Linked DNA regions of Homo sapiens: region 1 is linked to region 2. Evidence: fine-mapped QTL for protein levels in blood plasma. Region 2 holds a variant in brackets. A gene starts in the other region. All regions are shown on their reverse strands.

Region 1 (8,843 bases), not on the chromosome of region 2:
CGCTGGATCCCGGCCAGCCTTTCTGGATTCCAAAGTTTCTGCCGCCCAAAGGGGCTGGGAGAGCCCGAGACGCCGCAGGACACCGGCAATCCAGCCTCTCTCCGCCTCACTCCCCGAACGCCCCCACTCTGCGCACTCCGGTGCGTCTGTCCCCTCCCCCTCAGCCCTCCTCCCTGAGGGCTCCGGACGTGCCCGGCCCTGCTGACCCCCTGCCCGGTCCCTGCCGACCTCAACACTGGGCGAAGCGCCCATATTCACAAACTTGGGCGGGGGAGGGGGTTCCTCCGGAGCAGCTGAGCGGCTGAACCCAGCTGGAGCGCGTCCGGCCGCGCGGGGACACCCAGCATGCACCCTCAGCCCTGAAGACCGGCGCCAAACCTACATACATGAGCGCAGGGCGCGGGCCGGACGCCGGGCTCGCAGCGGGCGCAGGGGTAGCAGCGGCGGGCGCGGGCCCGGGTTGCCAGCGCCCATCCTGGGCCGGCCGGCGACCCGCGTGGGGCGGACCACTAACAGCCCAGCCCCACCTGCGCGCTCCGCCTGGCGCGCACACCGGGCTAGGGCGTCTCTGGGGAGTCGCTCATCGCGCTGTCAGCTGCCGGTAGTCGCGGCCCCAACTCGCGTCAGTGCCCGCGTCGCCCTCAGTCGCTCATCCTCCGGCCTCGTCCCCGCTTCTCCGAGACCAAGCGCGCCCCGGGGGCCACCCTGGCGCCGCCTCGCTCCTCTCCGCGGAGGGGTTCGGGGAGCTCTCCAGACCCGGCAGCCGGAATGTCTGGGCAGCCGTGGCGCGTCGGAGGGAAAAGAGAAGCCCGGAGCGCGGCCGGCGCGCGAGTGGCACCGAGGCCAGCATGGGAGCTAGCGCGCCCGCCTCCCGCCTCCCCCTGCCGCAGCCGCCTCCGCCCGGCTCCCGTTCCGCTCCCTCCTCTGCTGCCCCCGCTCTGGAGGCCCCGCCTTGGCCCGCGCTGCCCCGGGGGAGGCCCTCGCGCTGCCCCCGGAGAGGCCCTACCGCCGCACCCGCTCCCTTTGCTGCGCCGGACCAACCTGTCACTCGTCCGCGCGGCCGCGTCCCCACCTCCGCAGCCGGCCGCAGACCCTGCCAGGGCTGCCATTCTCCAGTCGAGTCATTCACTTTGCGCTGGACCTTTCATCTTGGCTTTTCTCTTTTCTTTAATTTCTTCCTTCCTAATTGGCCCCCTCTGGCTTTCCTCTTTGTGGACAGCTTGTTTCAGCTACTGTGTTCAGATTGGGATTCGAAGGCCGTGTTAGTTTAGCAGACTGTTGAGACTTTCTCGTCTTTGCATTCAGAAACCCAGAGAAATAGACGTTTACGAGTAAGAAACGTAAAAATCTCAAGCGCGAACTTTCTGAATCTCTGCCAATCTCTCCCCGCTCCCATCTTCCTCTTTCTGCCTGCTCTCTCTTCTACTACAAATAGAAACCTGTTTCCTAACTTTGCTAGAATCCTCAACTGTTAAGCAGAGGCCCGGTTGTTTTTACTCTTTGATCTTGTGTAAACGAGAAAACGTCAATAGTACCTGTTCAAATTAATCCCCGAAATTGAATTTTCATGGAAATGGCCCATGGCAGTGGTTCCCACTCACGGCATTTTAGAATCCCTGAAAGTGCTCGGACGGTAAACAGATAAGCTTCCCTGCAAGGTCAGGCGCTCTGGCTGGTGGGAACTGGGGAGGCTGGTTTGGGACACAGTTATGTCTATCTTTTAATAGTATAGACAAACAAATCTTAGCTGAGGTGCTAGGGAGCCCTCCTTGAAAGCCTGAGAAGGCTGCCCCTCCACCCCCTCCAACACATACACAACCAACAGGGCTGGATGGAGGATTTCTTTCTCTCTCTCTCTCTCTTTTTTTTTTTTTTCAGACGGAGTCTCGCTCTGTGGCCTAGCCTGGAGCGCAGTGGCGCGATCTCCACTTACTGCAAGCTCGATTCCCGGGTTCATGCCTTTCTGCCGCCTCAGCCTCCTGAGTAGCTGGGACTACAGTCGTCCGCCATCACCCCCAGCTAATTTTGTTTTTGTATTTTTAGTGAGACGGGGTTTCACCATGTTGGACATGATGGTCTCGATCTCCGGACCTCGTGATCCTCCTGCCTCGGTCTCCCAAAATGCTGGTGAGCCACCGCGCCTGGCCTGGATGGAGGATTTCTATGTACAGGATGATTTGAGCCCTTCTGCTGTTTCAGTTCTCACTCTCATTTTTCCTTTTTTTTTTTTTTTTAATGTTTTAGAGACACGATCTCACTTTGTCACCCAGGCTTCAGTGCAGTGGCATGATCACGGCCCACTGCAGCCTCAAACTCCTGCCTCAGACTCCGGAGGAGCTGGGTGTACAGGTCACCACACAGGGCTAATTTTTTGTTTGTTTGTTTTGTTTTGTTTCGTTTAGGTTTTTTCTTTTGTTTTTTTTTTGTTTTTTTTTTTTGGTAGAGATGGGATCTTGCTTTGTTGCCCAGGCTTGTCTTGAACTCCTGGCCTCAAATGATCCACCCGGCCTCTCAAAGTGCTGGGATTACAGGTGTGAGCCACCACACTCGGCCCTTTCGTTTCTTGTTACCCTCAGAAAAGAGACAGGCCACATTTGCTGTGGCTGCAGCTGCCTACCCACCCACCTGCCTCTCATCACATGCTCTAATCAGTTATGGCTTCTGTGTCTTTATGATGCTCTAATCCAAATATCACACCTTTCACAACACCACCAAAATAAAAACACGGCTCGAGGTGTGATCATATGTAATGTGCAAAATGGGCCCTCGGTTCTATAAAATCAAGTGCTTTTATAGCATTGGTTAGGCTACAAATTTTGTTATTTGACTTATTAGCTAATTCTGTTCTTGTCATTAAACATCCTGTTTGTTTTGTTTTGCCAACAGTACTCTCATGTGGTTACGATGGGGTAGCCCCAAACACATGTGACTAATAAGAACGAAACAGTAACATTATGTGTCCAGGATTCTAACTGAAAAATTGATTGGGGGCTCAGCTGAGGAAATAATGATGTCCCTTTATTAATCCCACCTCAATCACCGGTCTCTCTGAATCAGAAACTTCTTGTCCCAGCCAGCTGCTTCCAGTAGAGAGCCATGAATATGAGATAGCCAAGTTTTCAAGAAGAGGCCTGACAAAACTGAGGATGAATTAAGTGACCAAGTGTCCAAATGGCTTTGTTCTGTTAGATATTCTCAGAGATAGTGTTACAGGCCTGATAGAATGAGGGAGGAAAGCAGTTTCCAAGGGATTGCTGTCCTTTGTGAAGAAGAGCAATACCCATGCAGCTTGATGAGCTGAGTAATTCGAGAAAATATAGGGGACTTTGCAGGCGTTGAAGGAATATACAATTTATTTATTGCCAGTGCAATGAATTGTTGCGATTAACTTTTCTTCTTTCCTTCCTTCTTTGTTCCTTTCTTTCCTTCCTTCCTTCCCTTTGCCCTCCTTCTCCCCTTTCTCCCTCCCTCCTCCGTCTCTCTCCTTTTCCTCTTTCTCTCCCTCATTTCTTTCCTTCTTTCCTTTATTCCCTCCCTCCCTCTTTCCTTTCTTCCTTTCCACTTATTTTCCTTTTCCTTGCTTTCCTTTCCCTTCTCTTCCCATCCCCCCTTTTTCCCTTCCCTTCCCTTCACTTCCCTCCCCTCCCCCTCCCCTCCCTTCCCCTCCCCTCCCCTCCCTTCCCCTCCCCTCCCCTCCCTTCCTCTCTCCTTCCCTTCCCTTTCCCTTCTCTTTCTCTCCACTTCCCCTTGTTCTTCCCCTTCCCTTTTGCTTTTCCCTTCCTCTTTACTTTTCCATCCTTTCCTTTTTTCCAGGCTAGAGTGCAAGGCAGGAGCAGAAAGATCTCTGGTCAGGGACTGAAGTGACATGAGTGTAATCCAAGTTCCACCAGGGGCCAGTTTTGCAACTTTGAACAAGTCACTCAGTGTTACAGGCTCTTTGTTTTCTCACCTTTAAAAGGGAAGAGAGAGGATCTCTGAATGAATAGGAAGCCCAAAGCACTCTAGGAATATAGCACATTTCTGCTTTCATGCCCCGTTTTAACTGAGTTTGTTGCTTCCATTTTCTTCCTGTGTGCAAGAGTTAAATCCATCTGCTGAGGTACAGTCATATTTAGTAGCCGGTGTGAGAGTCTGAGCTTGGCCACAGGGCCAACCCTGAGCAATGCAGAGCAAGTGGGTTCCAGGCAGGATTCTAGGCCAGTCACCTTTCCTGTCCCTTTTGGCAGAATTAATCTTACCTTTATTTTCTCCCCAGAGAGTGGTTTATGTCTCTTGTAACAGTTAACTTTTTATGTCAACTTTTTTTATGTCCCTTAAACTTTTTTTTAATGTCAACTTTTTTTATGTCAACTGTTTTTTTAATGTCCCTTATAACAGTCAACTTTTTCATAGCTCTGCATTATCTGTACTCACCTCTGAAATGGTTGCTTATTTAAGGGCAATGGCTATGCTTTATTCATCCTTCTATTCTTAGAGCCAATAGGACCAATTGAGGAGGGAAAGGGAAAAGGAGGGAAGGAAGCAGCAATAGAAGGAGGGAAGGAAAGAAGGAGGGAGGGAGGGAGGGGAGAAAGAAAGGGAAGGCAATTCAGAGGGAGGGAGAGAAGAAATGCGAGGGAGGGAGAGAAGAAGAGCAAGGGAGGGAAGAAGGGAGAGAGGAAGGAAGGAAAGAGGGAAGGGAGGGAGGAAGAAAGGAAGTAAAGAAAGAGAAGAAGGTAGTGAGGGATGGAAAGAGGTAGAGAGGGAATGGGGGAGGGAAAGAAGAAGGATGAAAGAGAGGGAAAAAATGTAGGAAGGAAGGAAAGAAAGAATGAGGGAAGAGAAGAAAGGAAAGGGAAAGAAGGAAGGAATGAAGAGAGGGCAGGAGGAAGAGAAGAATTGAGGAAAAGAGGAAGGAAGAGAGAAAGTAAGAAGAGAGGGAAGAAGGAAAGGAAGGGAGGAAGGGAAAGAGGGAAGGAACAAAGAAGATAGGGAAAAGGAAGAAAAGAAAGATGAGAAGAAGAAGGATTGAAGAAAGGGAAGAAGGAAGGAAGGAGGGAAAGAAGAAGGATGGAAGAGGGAGGGAGGGAAGGAAGGAAAGCCAGAATTAGGAGAAATTCACTTATTATTTATACAATATTGGGCAAGTTCACAACCATCTCATTCAGTTTCTTACAATACTACTAGTCTTAGCAACCATTACTGTTTTTCATTTTGCCCATGGGAAACCATGCCTGAAAGAGGTTGAGACTTGACTAAGGTTACCCAGCTAATAAGGCAAGTGCCTGGTTGACAGTGACACCTGTGACTGCACTCCCAGTGTCCTGTCCCAGTACAGCTCCACTGCTGTCTCCTCCAAGTGGGCTGTGGCTCTATGACTTACTATTCTGGATTAACTGGCTCTCCCCAGCTTCTCTATCCAGCCAGAACTGCACGACCTCATGCACTAGGCCTTATATTCATCACAGCAGAGAAGCAACAGGTCATGCAAGGACCAGAGTGGGTTGTAGGGGCCTCGGGGGCAGTCCTGAGATGTCACTCCATCTTCATGTCCTCAGGCCAGGACCCCCTCTAACAGGGACTCATGTTTGCCCACGAATGAGAGAACACATTAACACATGCATGGCTGAGAAAGGATCCCTTGATGGATATTATACCAGACCCTGAGGAAGAAGAGTCAAGGAGCAGGTTTGCCTGGGAGGAAAACACAAGGGACCATGCCCCGGGAGGAGAGGCACCTCAGGGCACCCATTTGCAAATGAAATAGAAGAGAGGTAAGGAGCTCAGGTGTGCTCACAGAAGGATGAGACAAGGTCATCTGCTGCAACTGAGGGTGCCAGCTGCTTATGGTTTGAAAGTGGAAAAGAGACTGTGTGGAATAAAACATAAACGAAGTTAGGATGACTGCAGACCTGACCAGGAAACCAAGAAGGCCTTAATGGAACGCAGATCCAGCAAGGGAACCTTGCATATTTGCTCTATGGGGAGAACTGCTTGGGATGCCAAGGTGAGCCAGCTTTACAGGTGGCAGTGGAGAGAACTGGCAGACTGCTGCCACACCTCACCTTTACAGGTGAGGAGACAGTGTGGCTGCCCTGGGGAAGGAGGGCCTCCTGGGGACTGTGTGTTCCAGGCACAGCAGCTGCAGCAGTGTCTGCAGAAAACACAAAGGGCTCCCCACTCCTGCTCATGCACTCACTCCTCCCGCTGACTGCAGATTGCCTGAGCCCAAGGAGAAGAACTTTCCTTCATTTAGTTCACACCTTTGGCAAAGCCATTTAACTTGAATTCTGGGCTTGGGCCAGTGAAGGAAATGCTTTGAAACCATCTTTGAGGGTTAGAGGGAATAAAAGCCACTTCCACCTGAAATCAAGGGTCAGCAGGATCGTTGTGGTTCAGGCAGAAAGGTGACCATTAATGAGTGGGAGAGGCCACTTTGGTGCTCAGATGGCTTTTTATGGATATACACAGAGCAGGCCTGGCTGTTAAGGGAGCCACTAATTAAAGTTCTGCCCTGGAACGAGCTACCAGTCGGCAGGGCAACAGCTCCATTACTGCTTCCCCTTTTGATACATGTCTGTGGTTGAGAATTACTGTTCCCTGGGCTGACCTGCCGCACATGCTGCCTGATTACAGCACACCTTGGGGACTCATGCCTTCTGCTACGATGCCAAAAGTCAGCAGCATCTGTTCAGATAATCAAATGGATGACTCACAGATATTCTTCTGAAATCAGTGGCAAAATCTTACTCCTTGAAAAGAGGTTTCCAGGGATCCATTTTTCGTAGACTATAAAGTCATCCACTGTACTGGTATCACAGACCCCATAGATGTGGACTAAAAAGAAGTTTCAGAAACAATTGTTGTGAAACAAAGGCCTATCAAAGTTTACTACTCTAAGAAGTACAATAAGCAGTTGGTTTAGAATGGTTGGAATTGCAGATGGCATAGCACTGTGCAATAGTGGGAAAGGATCTAGATCCATAAGGCAGAGGTAAGAAGCTTCGGGTTGCATTTTTAAAGCTGTTTCCTCCTCTTACCTTTGGAGAGTTCCAAAGGAGGAAATCTGTGGCTAGTGCTGCATGCCATGTGGCCCTATTTGGACAGGATTTTTCTTTGGAGTCAATAAAGGGAACCTGAAATCCACTCTGGAGCCCTTCTGAGTTGGGATGTGTTTTCTCCTGACTTCTCTGGCCCATGGTCTTCCCAGGAGCCAGACACTGGACCTGGCTGTGATACCACAAGAGATGGAGTATTATTTATACCCTGTGGTCTATGTAGGGGATGCTTTGCTTGGCTGAGCACAGCAGAAAGCAGTGCAGGAAGGGGAGGGTGTTTCCAGGTGGGCTCATAATGAGTCAGTGGCTAAGAGAAAAAAAAACAAACTCTATTTTTAATTTGCTTTCACACCATGACAATCAACACAGAAAACTTCTGTGGCCAAATGTTTGGGGATTACCCCCAACCATAAAGCAAGCAATCAGTTTTGCAGTAGACACCAGCTGGGTGTCCTTCAGTTCAATTCTGACTCCGTCTATCTGGAGATAGCCTCAGATCCCACAGGTTGGGAAATCAGTCCCCAAGACTGCTCCCACTTCTGATGCCAATCTCAAGGCCCAGGTTGTTTTACCTGTGCTTCTGAATGACTGGCTATAAATTGGGGATCCCATAAGCCCCCTTCTTTGGTTTGATTAATTTACTAGAGTGGCTCACAGAACTCAGGGAAAGACTTTGTTTACCAGTTTATTATAAAGGATATCACAAAGGATACAGATGAAGAGATGCATAGGGCAAGGTGTGGGGGAAAAGGCATGGAACTTCCATGCCCTCTCCAGGTCCCCACCCTCATAGGAACCACTGCACATTCAGCTATCCTGAAGCTCTTCAAATGCTATCCTTTTGGGTTTTTATGGAGGCTTCGTTAGGCAGGCATGTAGGTTAAATCATGACAGACTCATTAAAATACAAAAAGACATTACTCTGGGGACTCTAAAGATTTTAGCAGATATATGCTAGGAAGCAGAGTTGAAGACCAAATATGTATTTCATAATATCACAGGGGCACATGCATCTTTGGTGGAGAGTCAGGAAAGTGGGTCTCCCAGGATGGCTTATCTCCTTGGTCCCAAGCTTGTTGAGCTCTAGAATATTCCCTGGTGTGCCAAGGGGACTTTGAAATTCTCTGGGGCACCTCAATTCTTTCCCAAGTATCACTAGCTATATGGGATAATGGCAGAACCTGAGGATGGGAGGTACAAGGGATTCCCTCTGTAAACAGATGGTCAGGAACCTGACTTCTCCCTGACGCTGCTTGAAGCTCTGACACTGGGCCTCATACTTGGGCTGAGACAGTGGGTGTGTGCTTCAGAAGAATCCTGGTCTCATTGTCACAAGGAGGTAAGTCCTTGTTCCAAACGACTTCTTCATGGGATCTAAACATGAGAACATATAGATATCTAGGACTTACGGGACAAGGACAATGACAGTGACCACCCCTACTCTATCTCACTTCTGTATTTCTAGCATCTAGAGCATGTAGCATCTATAGCATGCAGCAGGGGCACAATAAATGTTTACCGGATGAATTAACAAAGAATCACAAAACGACATGACACAAAGTGCTTTTTCCTACATCTCCGGTTACCAACCCCCTCCACTCCCTCACCCCTCTCCCTAAGCTCCCCACCTCCTCAACACCAACCCACTAGGACTGTACTTAATCATGCAAAACAGTTCTGCAAATACACTGAGCCCTAGGACACTGAGGGAGCACAGGCCTCCGTACTTCTCTGCCATTTTCCAGGCTTTTCCAGGCACCACTTCACGCCCTCACTCAGGAACATGCTAGCTAAGTTTTATCTCCA
Region 2 (8,887 bases):
AGGTTTGTCTCTGAGAAGAGCTGCCCTGTGGGGTTTCCCTCTTTGCCTCTGCTGCTGGGAGGCTCACAACTCAGTTTTATGCAGATTTGCAGTAGTTTCTTTCACACTAGTTTCTGGCATTATTATTGTTGTTATATTTTGGTATGATCATGGCTCACTGCACCGTCAAACTCCCAGGTTCAAAAGAAACTCCTGCCTCGGCCTCCCTAGTAGCTGGGACTACAGGCGTGCACCACCACACCTGGCTAATTTTTTTTTTTTTTTTTCCAGTAGAGACAAGGTTGCCCAGGCTGGTCTTGAATTCCTGGGCTCAAGTGATCCTCCCACCTAAGCCTCCCAAAGTGCTGGAATTACAGGCGTGATTCACCACACCCAGCCATTTCTGCCATTGTTATTATACTTCCCTTTTACTCCATGTTTTTGAAGTCTTCCCTCTTTTGATGGTTGTCAGGTTTATGATGTCTGAACTTTTTAGTATAAACCATCTGAAATACTAAAACAAATAGAAGGAAAAGTTGCAGGGAGAGTTCTGGTGGGCTATGCATGAGCAGGGAAGGCTTCCGCAAGAAAGGGGCTGGTCTGAGCCCTGAAAAAGGGCAAGGTTTTGGGGAGGTTAGCAGTGGGATGGAAATGGGATTGGAACAGAGCACAGAAACCCAGAATTTGGGGTAAAGGGGCTGAATGGGGATAGGGCCAATTGTAGCTCTGATGGCCTGGGTGGGTCTCACTCTGGCCACAGATCGAGAACGGCTACTTTGTACACTACTTTGCCCCCGAGGGCCTAACCACAATGCCCAAGAATGTGGTCTTTGTCATTGACAAGAGCGGCTCCATGAGTGGCAGGAAAATCCAGCAGGTAGGTCCTGTGGCCCAGGGCAGGGCCCTGAAAACTCCCAGGCCCTTCACGCTATCAGCTGTGGTCCGGCAGGCAGACCCCCTTGCTTCACCTTTCGGCACCATGGGGCGGGTGGCTCTCAGGAACCAAGGTTGGCCAGAGCCTAGGGCAGCCCCTGTTCCTAGAGCAGATACCATGACCTCACCCCTGAGACAGGAGTCCAAGGATGCCAGCCCTAGGGCACACGAGCCCTCAGGGAGCCCTTCTGAAGCACCTATGTTTCCTCTCCCTGACCAGACCCGGGAAGCCCTAATCAAGATCCTGGATGACCTCAGCCCCAGAGACCAGTTCAACCTCATCGTCTTCAGTACAGAAGCAACTCAGTGGAGGCCATCACTGGTGCCAGCCTCAGCCGAGAACGTGAACAAGGCCAGGAGCTTTGCTGCGGGCATCCAGGCCCTGGGAGGTAAGTGTCTCTGTGGCCCTGCAGGGTGGGGGCTTCCAGGGCTCCTGGCTGGGGACCACCTTGAGAGTGCGTGTTCCTCAGGGACCAACATCAATGATGCAATGCTGATGGCTGTGCAGTTGCTGGACAGCAGCAACCAGGAGGAGCGGCTGCCCGAAGGGAGTGTCTCACTCATCATCCTGCTCACCGATGGCGACCCCACTGTGGGTGAGGGCCCTGCCCGTGACTCCAGGACGTGCTGCACAGGGGAGGCGGCTGGGGCTGCACCTGGGCTTGCTGTGGGATCTGGGCAGGGAGAGGGGGTCACTGAGGCCCCTCGGCTCTGAGGTTCCAGAAATATTCTTCAAGCAAATCACTATTTTCTCACCCTCATCCCAAACCCCTGGGTCCAGGGGAGACTAACCCCAGGAGCATCCAGAATAACGTGCGGGAAGCTGTAAGTGGCCGGTACAGCCTCTTCTGCCTGGGCTTC[G/A]GTTTCGACGTCAGCTATGCCTTCCTGGAGAAGCTGGCACTGGACAATGGCGGCCTGGCCCGGCGCATCCATGAGGACTCAGACTCTGCCCTGCAGCTCCAGGTGCCAGTGTGCCCCAGGTGGGCTGCACAGAGAAGTGGGCAGTCATAAAGCCCAGCCTTTATGACACCCCCAACCCTGCAGGACTTCTACCAGGAAGTGGCCAACCCACTGCTGACAGCAGTGACCTTCGAGTACCCAAGCAATGCCGTGGAGGAGGTCACTCAGAACAACTTCCGGCTCCTCTTCAAGGGCTCAGAGATGGTGGTGGCTGGGAAGCTCCAGGACCGGGGGCCTGATGTGCTCACAGCCACAGTCAGTGGGAAGCTGGTGAGTGTGGCCAAAGCCACCCTGGAGGGGAATGGCAGCCTCCACCTCTGCAGCCAGAGGGGCTGGACTCAAATCCCAGACCTGCCCAGCTCCAGCTTTCCCCTCTGCTGCCTGTGGATGACACAGGGGCATGGCAGGGATTCAATGAGACAATGGAGTGATTCTCATGAGACCAGCACATACAGGCTCTCGGCAGCCGGTCTGTGCACCTGCAAGCACAGGTGAGGGCAGGGATTCCTCCCTAGTTGTCATCCCTTCCTGTCCTGGTACCACAACCCTCTCAGGTTGCAGTCAGACAGGGAGGGCTGCTCCTATTTCACAAATGAGCAGACTGAGCTCCAGGCAGGGCAGGCAGCTTTCCCCGGGCCCCACTGCAACCAGGCCAAGAGCCCAGCTTGCCACGTGGCACCCTGTCCTTGCCCAGCCTTCCCTGCCTCCTTCCAGGGACCCCCTGTCATTTCCACAAAGAGAAACTGAGCACAAGCTCTGCGGCAGGGCCTTCTTCAGGCCCTGGGATGCAGCAGTGAATGAGGCTGACCCCTCCGTGCCCTCATGGGAGAGACAACCCAAGGACATATCACCACACAAACCAGCTACAGGCTGGGATCTAACCCTGGACTCAGGAGAGCAGCACCAGGAGCCCCAGCCTGGCCTGGGGATCAGGGAGGGCTTCCTGGAGGAGGCCCAGCAGAGACAAAAGGATAAGTAGGAGGTGGGAAGAGTCCAGATGGGGCAATGGAGGAATATGTTAGGCCCCTGTGGCATGAGGGCAGCGTGTGTGAAGAGAATAGGAGTGGGCGTTGGGGGCCCATGGCCTTGTTTCAGGACAAGTCCCCAAGTGTCATGACTGTTGGTACGGTCTGCGTGGCCACCCTGCCTGGCTTCAAACCCAGCTCTGCCACCTCCCAGATAGGAGACATGGAGAAGTCACTTAACCTCCATCTACTGCAGTTTCCTCCTATGTAAACATGGGAATAAGTCGCATGCCCCCCTCATAAAGTCACTGTGATTGATGTCCAGTGATAAGCACTCCATACATGTCAGCAGGTGATTTAGCTTGGAGGCCGTGGGTTCCCAAAGTACAGAACCCAAGGTGACTCAGGGGAGTTCACAGACAGACATGGCTTGTTTTAGTGGTTATTTACTTATTTTAATGTGTATTCTGAAAAATATGACCTGAACTTCAGACCTAAGATTTTTTTTTTTATTTTTTGAGATGGAGTCTCGCTCTGTCTCCCAGGCTGGAGTGCAGTGGTTGGATCTCGGCTCATTGCAAGCTCCACCTCCCAGGTTCACACCATTCTCCTGCCTCAGCCTCCCAAGTAGCTGGGACTACCAGCATCCACCACCACACCCGGCTAATTTTTTGTATTTTTAGTAGAAAGGGAGTTTCACCTTGTTAGCCAGGATGGTCTCGGTCTCCTGACCTCGTGATCTGCCCACCTTGGCCTCCCAAAGTGCTGGGATTACAGGCGTGAGCCACCGCACCTGGCCCAGATCTAAGATTTTATGGACATAAAGCCAAGTAAAAATTGTTAGCTTACTTAAAGTTCATTTAAGGAAAAATATCAATTAAATAGCTGTATGTGTGGATGGGGCAAAATTCATGCAGGTAGCCTATGTGTGCCAAAGCTTTGGAAAGCCAGCCAGGCTCTGGGCGAGAGACAGGCTGCTCCAGTGGGAGCAGACCGCAGATCTGATCCGCACTGTGAAAAGGTCTCTTGGCCACTCAGGGAGCTCTGGTGGGAGAGGCCTGGGATTCCTCTGCCCTAGGAGCCCATTTCCCAGGCAGCGAGCTAGGTCAGTCTGAGACCACAGGCCCCTCCCTGAGGGAGGAGGGAGCAGGTTCACACAGAGCTTGGGTGCATGCTTCCCTGTCATTGTCCCACGGTGGCCAGCCGCAGAGGGGCCAGCTTGGACAGGGACAGCCGTTGGGGTGGATGGGGCCCCAAACCCGGAGCCATGACATCTGAGTTGTGTTCTCAACTCTGCCTCTGACCCCTGGGAAGGTCCTTCCCTCTCTGTCCCTTTCCCTCAGCTTTGGGGGTAAGGGCAGGCTGTAGCTAGACCCTTCCTGCTCCACACTGCACTTGCAAATCCTTCCTGCTGCTGTTTCTACACTGGCCTGGGGTTCCCATCCCTTTCTTCCAGAGGTTTGGCTGATCTGAGTCCTGGCGCTGTGCCTGCCTTATTGTATCTGGGCTACTTTGCTACCTTTTCACCTCCTTCTCATCCCTGTATGCTCTGTGACTGAGCCCCTTGCACCCCTAAGCCCCCTCCTTACCCCCACTCAAAGGAAATGCAGTCCCCACAGTCAGTGTGTGGGACCTGCCCCAGCCCCAATCATGGAAGAGCTCAGAAGTGCCAGGCAGATGCAGATGTCCGGCCCTCACTGCTCCTGCCCTGGCTGGGCCCCTCTTTCCAGCCTACACAGAACATCACTTTCCAAACGGAGTCCAGTGTGGCAGAGCAGGAGGCGGAGTTCCAGAGCCCCAAGTATATCTTCCACAACTTCATGGAGAGGCTCTGGGCATACCTGACTATCCAGCAGCTGCTGGAGCAAACGTGAGTGCATCAGCACCTCCCTAAGCCTGTCGCTAGGGGGCAGGCACAGGTGGCACGGTACAGCGCCTAAGCATGGAGAGAGGGGGGTCTTGGCATCATGTCCAAGCTCCAGATTCTCCCAGAGGGACCTCCCCAGAAGGGGCTGGATGGAAAATCTGTTCCCGAATTCAAGGATCTCCTGAGCTCTGATGTGCTCCACCTACAGTGTCTCCGCATCCGATGCTGATCAGCAGGCCCTCCGGAACCAAGCGCTGAATTTATCACTTGCCTACAGCTTTGTCACGCCTCTCACATCTATGGTAGTCACCAAACCCGATGACCAAGAGCAGTCTCAAGTTGCTGAGAAGCCCATGGAAGGCGGTGGGTGTGGGGTTGAGATCTCAGCCTCCCAGGTAGCAGAGTTTGGACCCAGCGTTCTCCCCGATCTTCCCTGCATCCTGACCAAGACCCCAACCGTGCCCCCAACAGACTCCCCCTGGGAGATTCAGCCTATTCACTGATGAGGAAAGTGAAGCCGGGTCTCCTGTCTCCCCAAATTCATTGCACCTACGATATAGTCCAGGATTGGGTAGCAAGATTAAACACAAGCGCTTCAAATTGATGAAAACCACCCTGACGGTGTCTGTCTGTGTCTCTGTCTGTCTGTCTCTCTCTCTCTCTTTGTTTTATCCAGAAAGTAGAAACAGGAATGTCCACTCAGGTAAGCAGCGAACATCCTCAAAGGCTGTGCTGGGTGGTGGTCTGCTAACACAGGGTCCAGGGCACCAGCCCTGTGAGGTTGCTGGCCAGGGCCCAGGTCCACCCAGGCCTCTCCAGCCCATCCCTGCTGCCAGGAGGCAGTGTAATCTGACCCAGCATGCTGGTGCATTTAGTCGCCTGTGCATTCAAATATTGGCTGTGCCTCAGGCCCTGTCCCCAGCACTAAGAATACAGTCCCCATCCAAGTGGGGCCACAGGAAGGTGGGTGCAAGATGCAAACCCAGGTCCCACTGATTTCCAGGTTCCACTTTCTTCAAATATTATCTCCAGGGAGCAAAAATACCAAAACCAGGTGACAAAGTAGGAGGTGGGGGGAGGGGAGATTGACAGATTGGGCTCAGTCCTGGCTGTGGAGGGTAGTGCCTTGCCCAGCTCCTCTGGCTGGTGACAGCCCTCGGGCCTCAGTTCAGTTGTATCTGATCAGGACTTGACCACACAGAGGCTTCCTTTTCTCCAAGAAGAGGATGGAATAGACAAGGTAGTTTGAGGGTTTCTGCCAGGGGGAGGCATGACATCCCTGGGGGGGAGCTTGAGGGAGGTCCATTATTGTTCATCTCCCAGCTGTTGGGGGAGAGGCTCCCCAAGTTGGCCGGGTGTGGGGAGAGGGGACATAGCTGCCCTCTCCGCACCCACTCCTGGGTGGATCTCAAGCCCTGGCTGTGAAGACCCACACCCCACCTGAGAGAAGACTGCATCTGTCGATTTCTCCAAAGCTGGAGCTGCTGGCTCCCGGATGAATTTCAGACCTGGGGTTCTCAGCTCCAGGCAACTTGGACTCCCAGGACCTCCTGATGTTCCTGACCATGCTGCTTACCACCCCTTCCGCCGTCTGGCCATCTGTAAGCTGCCTTCCGGCCCTGCGAGGGCCTCGGTTTCCCACGGTGGTCCTTGAGCCTGCCCCATAGAGGGGGGTGGGGTAAAGCACGCACCACAGGGCCAGGCCAGGGACGGCTGCTGAGGGCACGATGTGAAGTAATTGTGGGTCAGTTCAACCTGGGATCATTTACTGGGGCTGGGGTGGGAGTGCATTTCCTAAGGAGGCTGTCCTCGCCTTCCCAGCTCTTTGCAGCTGCCCCCTGCCCCATCCTTAGCGTCTCATCTCCTCAGATGCGAGCTCACCCGGGTCCTTTAGCTGCCCCTAGGTTGTCAGACCACAGGCCATGACAGAGCAGCCTCTCCCACACTCCTTGTTCAGAGGGGACCCTAGGCCCTAAGAGGGGCACGGACTGGCCAAGCATGCACATCACAGCGCTCTTTGGAGCAGTCCTTGCCAGCTTCCTCTCTCTGAAGGCCCCTCTCCCCACTACCCAGTGTATGGACATCAGGCCTCCCCTCCCCAAGGCAGGACTTCACCTGTCCTTTACTTTCACTGAGTAGGATCCACTATACTCTAGAGGCTGACTCATGAGGAAACCTTCTAGGAAGGGAGGGCTTCCTCCGTTCAGAAAGCCAACAGAGGTCCCTTGAACTGTTTTCTGATCCCCAAATCTGCACTCGAATGCAGCTGCACAGCCAGGCTGGACCTATCCCTGACAGCATGCTCTTCTGTTTGAAAATCTCCTGTGACAAAGGCCATTCTAGGTGGAGTGTATGTGTGGCAGGATGGGGGGCTGGAGCTTGGTGGCAGCGCTGCTGGTTGCCCGCCTCCTGACTGCCTTCCTGCTCCCTTTCTGTTTCCGGATGTTCCTGCCCTAGTGCCTGCTTCAGCACCACCAGCCACCTCAAATCCTGATCCAGCTGTGTCTCGTGTCATGAATATGAAAATCGAAGGTGCCCCCAAGGCCAGAGGCCCTGTCCTAACAGGGGGATCCTGGGAGGGGAGTGACCTGTCACATGTCTCGATGTTGAAGTAGTGAGGGAACCCAGCCACACCTAGTCACTGCTCCCTCCCTCAACCTCCCACTCCTCAGGAAGGGGCTGCCTAAACCCAGACTTTTTCTTCTTTTAGAAACAACCATGACAACCCAAACCCCAGGTAAGTTCCCAGCCCCCTTGGCCCCTTTCCACATCCTTGCCCCCAGCCTGCCCTTCCTGCTCCAGGAGCCGTGCCCCGGCTGTCCCAGCCCCCATACAGGCTCCCTCTGCCATCCTGCCACTGCCTGGGCAGAGTGTGGAGCGGCTCTGTGTGGACCCCAGACACCGCCAGGGGCCAGTGAACCTGCTCTCAGACCCTGAGCAAGGTGAGAGAGGCACACCCAGAGAGACCCAGACACCACTGGCACACACCCACCACCTGCCTACAGAGACACACACAGCGCGTGCAGGCTGGCCCCACACAGGCCCCTCCCAGATCATAGCATGGTCCTGCCTCCCAGTGCTGGCATGGGCACACACTCACACAGACACCCCGGGGACCTTCCACTGGGCACCTTGTGTGCAGGTGTGGGTGGCCAAGGCACAGATAAGCATGGCAGCCATGTGGAGGTGAGCCTAGAGGAGGAGCCAGGGTGGGGCAAGGGTCAGGGGAGCTGCCTGGGGTCACACAGGGATGGCAGGGCCATGGCGGGTGCACAGAGACCAGCATGAGGATGTTCCAGATGATGGAGGAGTTAGTGCCTGCAGAGTACAGAGCCCCAAAAGATGAGACCTAGAAGGTGTGGATGAGGGGAATGGCAGGAAGAGACAGGGGTGCTGGCTGGGCCCTGCCCCTTCAATCCTGGACCAGACATGGGGACACACTCCACTCAGCAGTGCTCACCCCCGCACCGCCCAGCCCCGCTCAAAGCCAAGGGACATCCATGGCTTTCTCATTCCTCAGATGCATGTGTCACCCACTTCCTCACTCAGGCTAGGAATGTCTTTCCTGAGGGCAGGGAGCACCAATTCTCCATCTTACCCTTGGCCGCGGCATCTAGCTCAGGGCCAGGCGCTCCATGGGGCGTTCTGAAGGCTTATTGACTGGAGACAAGTTAATTCTCAAAGGCCTCAACTGAGGGTGGCCGTCGCCGAGGATTTAGGGGCCCCTCCAAAGCCTTAGACACCAAGGGACAAGTGGAGAGATTGTGGGAGCCAGCCCCCAGTGTGAAGGAGTGCTGAGAAAGGGGCACCCCTCCTGATGAGGGAGGGAGCTGCTGCAGAACTCCAGGGGGTGTGATCAGGGGGGACTCCCCATGCAGGTCGGTGTCAGACCTGGCTGGGGCCCAGCTATGACCTCTCTGGTCTGGTCCTCCCAGGGGTTGAGGTGACTGGCCAGTATGAGAGGGAGAAGGCTGGGTTCTCATGGATCGAAGTGACCTTCAAGAACCCCCTGGTATGGGTTCACGCATCCCCTGAACACGTGGTGGTGACTCGGAACCGAAGAAGCTCTGCGTACAAGTGGAAGGAGACGCTATTCTCAGTGATGCCCGGGTAAGGCCCAGGCTGGAGCCCGGGGCAGGGGTTGACCTTTCAGGCTACAGTGGCTGATGATGGTACCAGCAGG

Direction of the effects. Alleles are on the strand shown, and positions count from the first base shown. The strength of an association depends on the size of the effect and on how common the allele is.
For the plasma level of the protein whose gene starts at base 862 in region 1, allele G in region 2 goes with a lower level than allele A (strong association).

What was found. PIP is the chance, under the fine-mapping model, that this variant and not a neighbour inherited with it causes the effect. The UK Biobank Pharma Proteomics Project read protein levels with antibody pairs (Olink). The fine-mapping took linkage between variants from a reference panel, not from the people measured, so its PIPs are less certain.
Region 1: it holds the start of VWC2, and the variant in region 2 is fine-mapped to the plasma level of the VWC2 protein (UK Biobank, PIP above 0.99).

What each region holds. Positions count from the first base shown.
Region 1 is chr7:49,765,657-49,774,499 of GRCh38, reverse strand. It overlaps VWC2 (von Willebrand factor C domain containing 2), which reads right to left and starts at 862. Exons shown (of 4, transcript NM_198570.5): 1 at 387-862. RefSeq lists an enhancer at 7,244-7,493.
Region 2 is chr3:52,816,811-52,825,697 of GRCh38, reverse strand. ITIH4 (inter-alpha-trypsin inhibitor heavy chain 4) reads left to right here. Exons shown (of 24, transcript NM_002218.5): 7 at 740-856; 8 at 1,133-1,301; 9 at 1,383-1,508; 10 at 1,694-1,875; 11 at 1,957-2,142; 12 at 4,568-4,707; 13 at 4,913-5,067; 14 at 5,381-5,407; 15 at 5,708-5,758; 16 at 5,906-5,944; 17 at 6,180-6,305; 18 at 7,162-7,236; 19 at 7,415-7,441; 20 at 7,530-7,646; 1 more. It overlaps ITIH4-AS1 (ITIH4 antisense RNA 1), which reads right to left and starts at 1,763. Exons shown (of 3, transcript NR_046615.1): 1 at 1,705-1,763; 2 at 1,361-1,586; 3 at 384-493. RefSeq lists a silencer at 1,282-1,439 and an enhancer at 5,085-6,073. The variant G/A (reference allele first, on the strand shown) is at 1,774.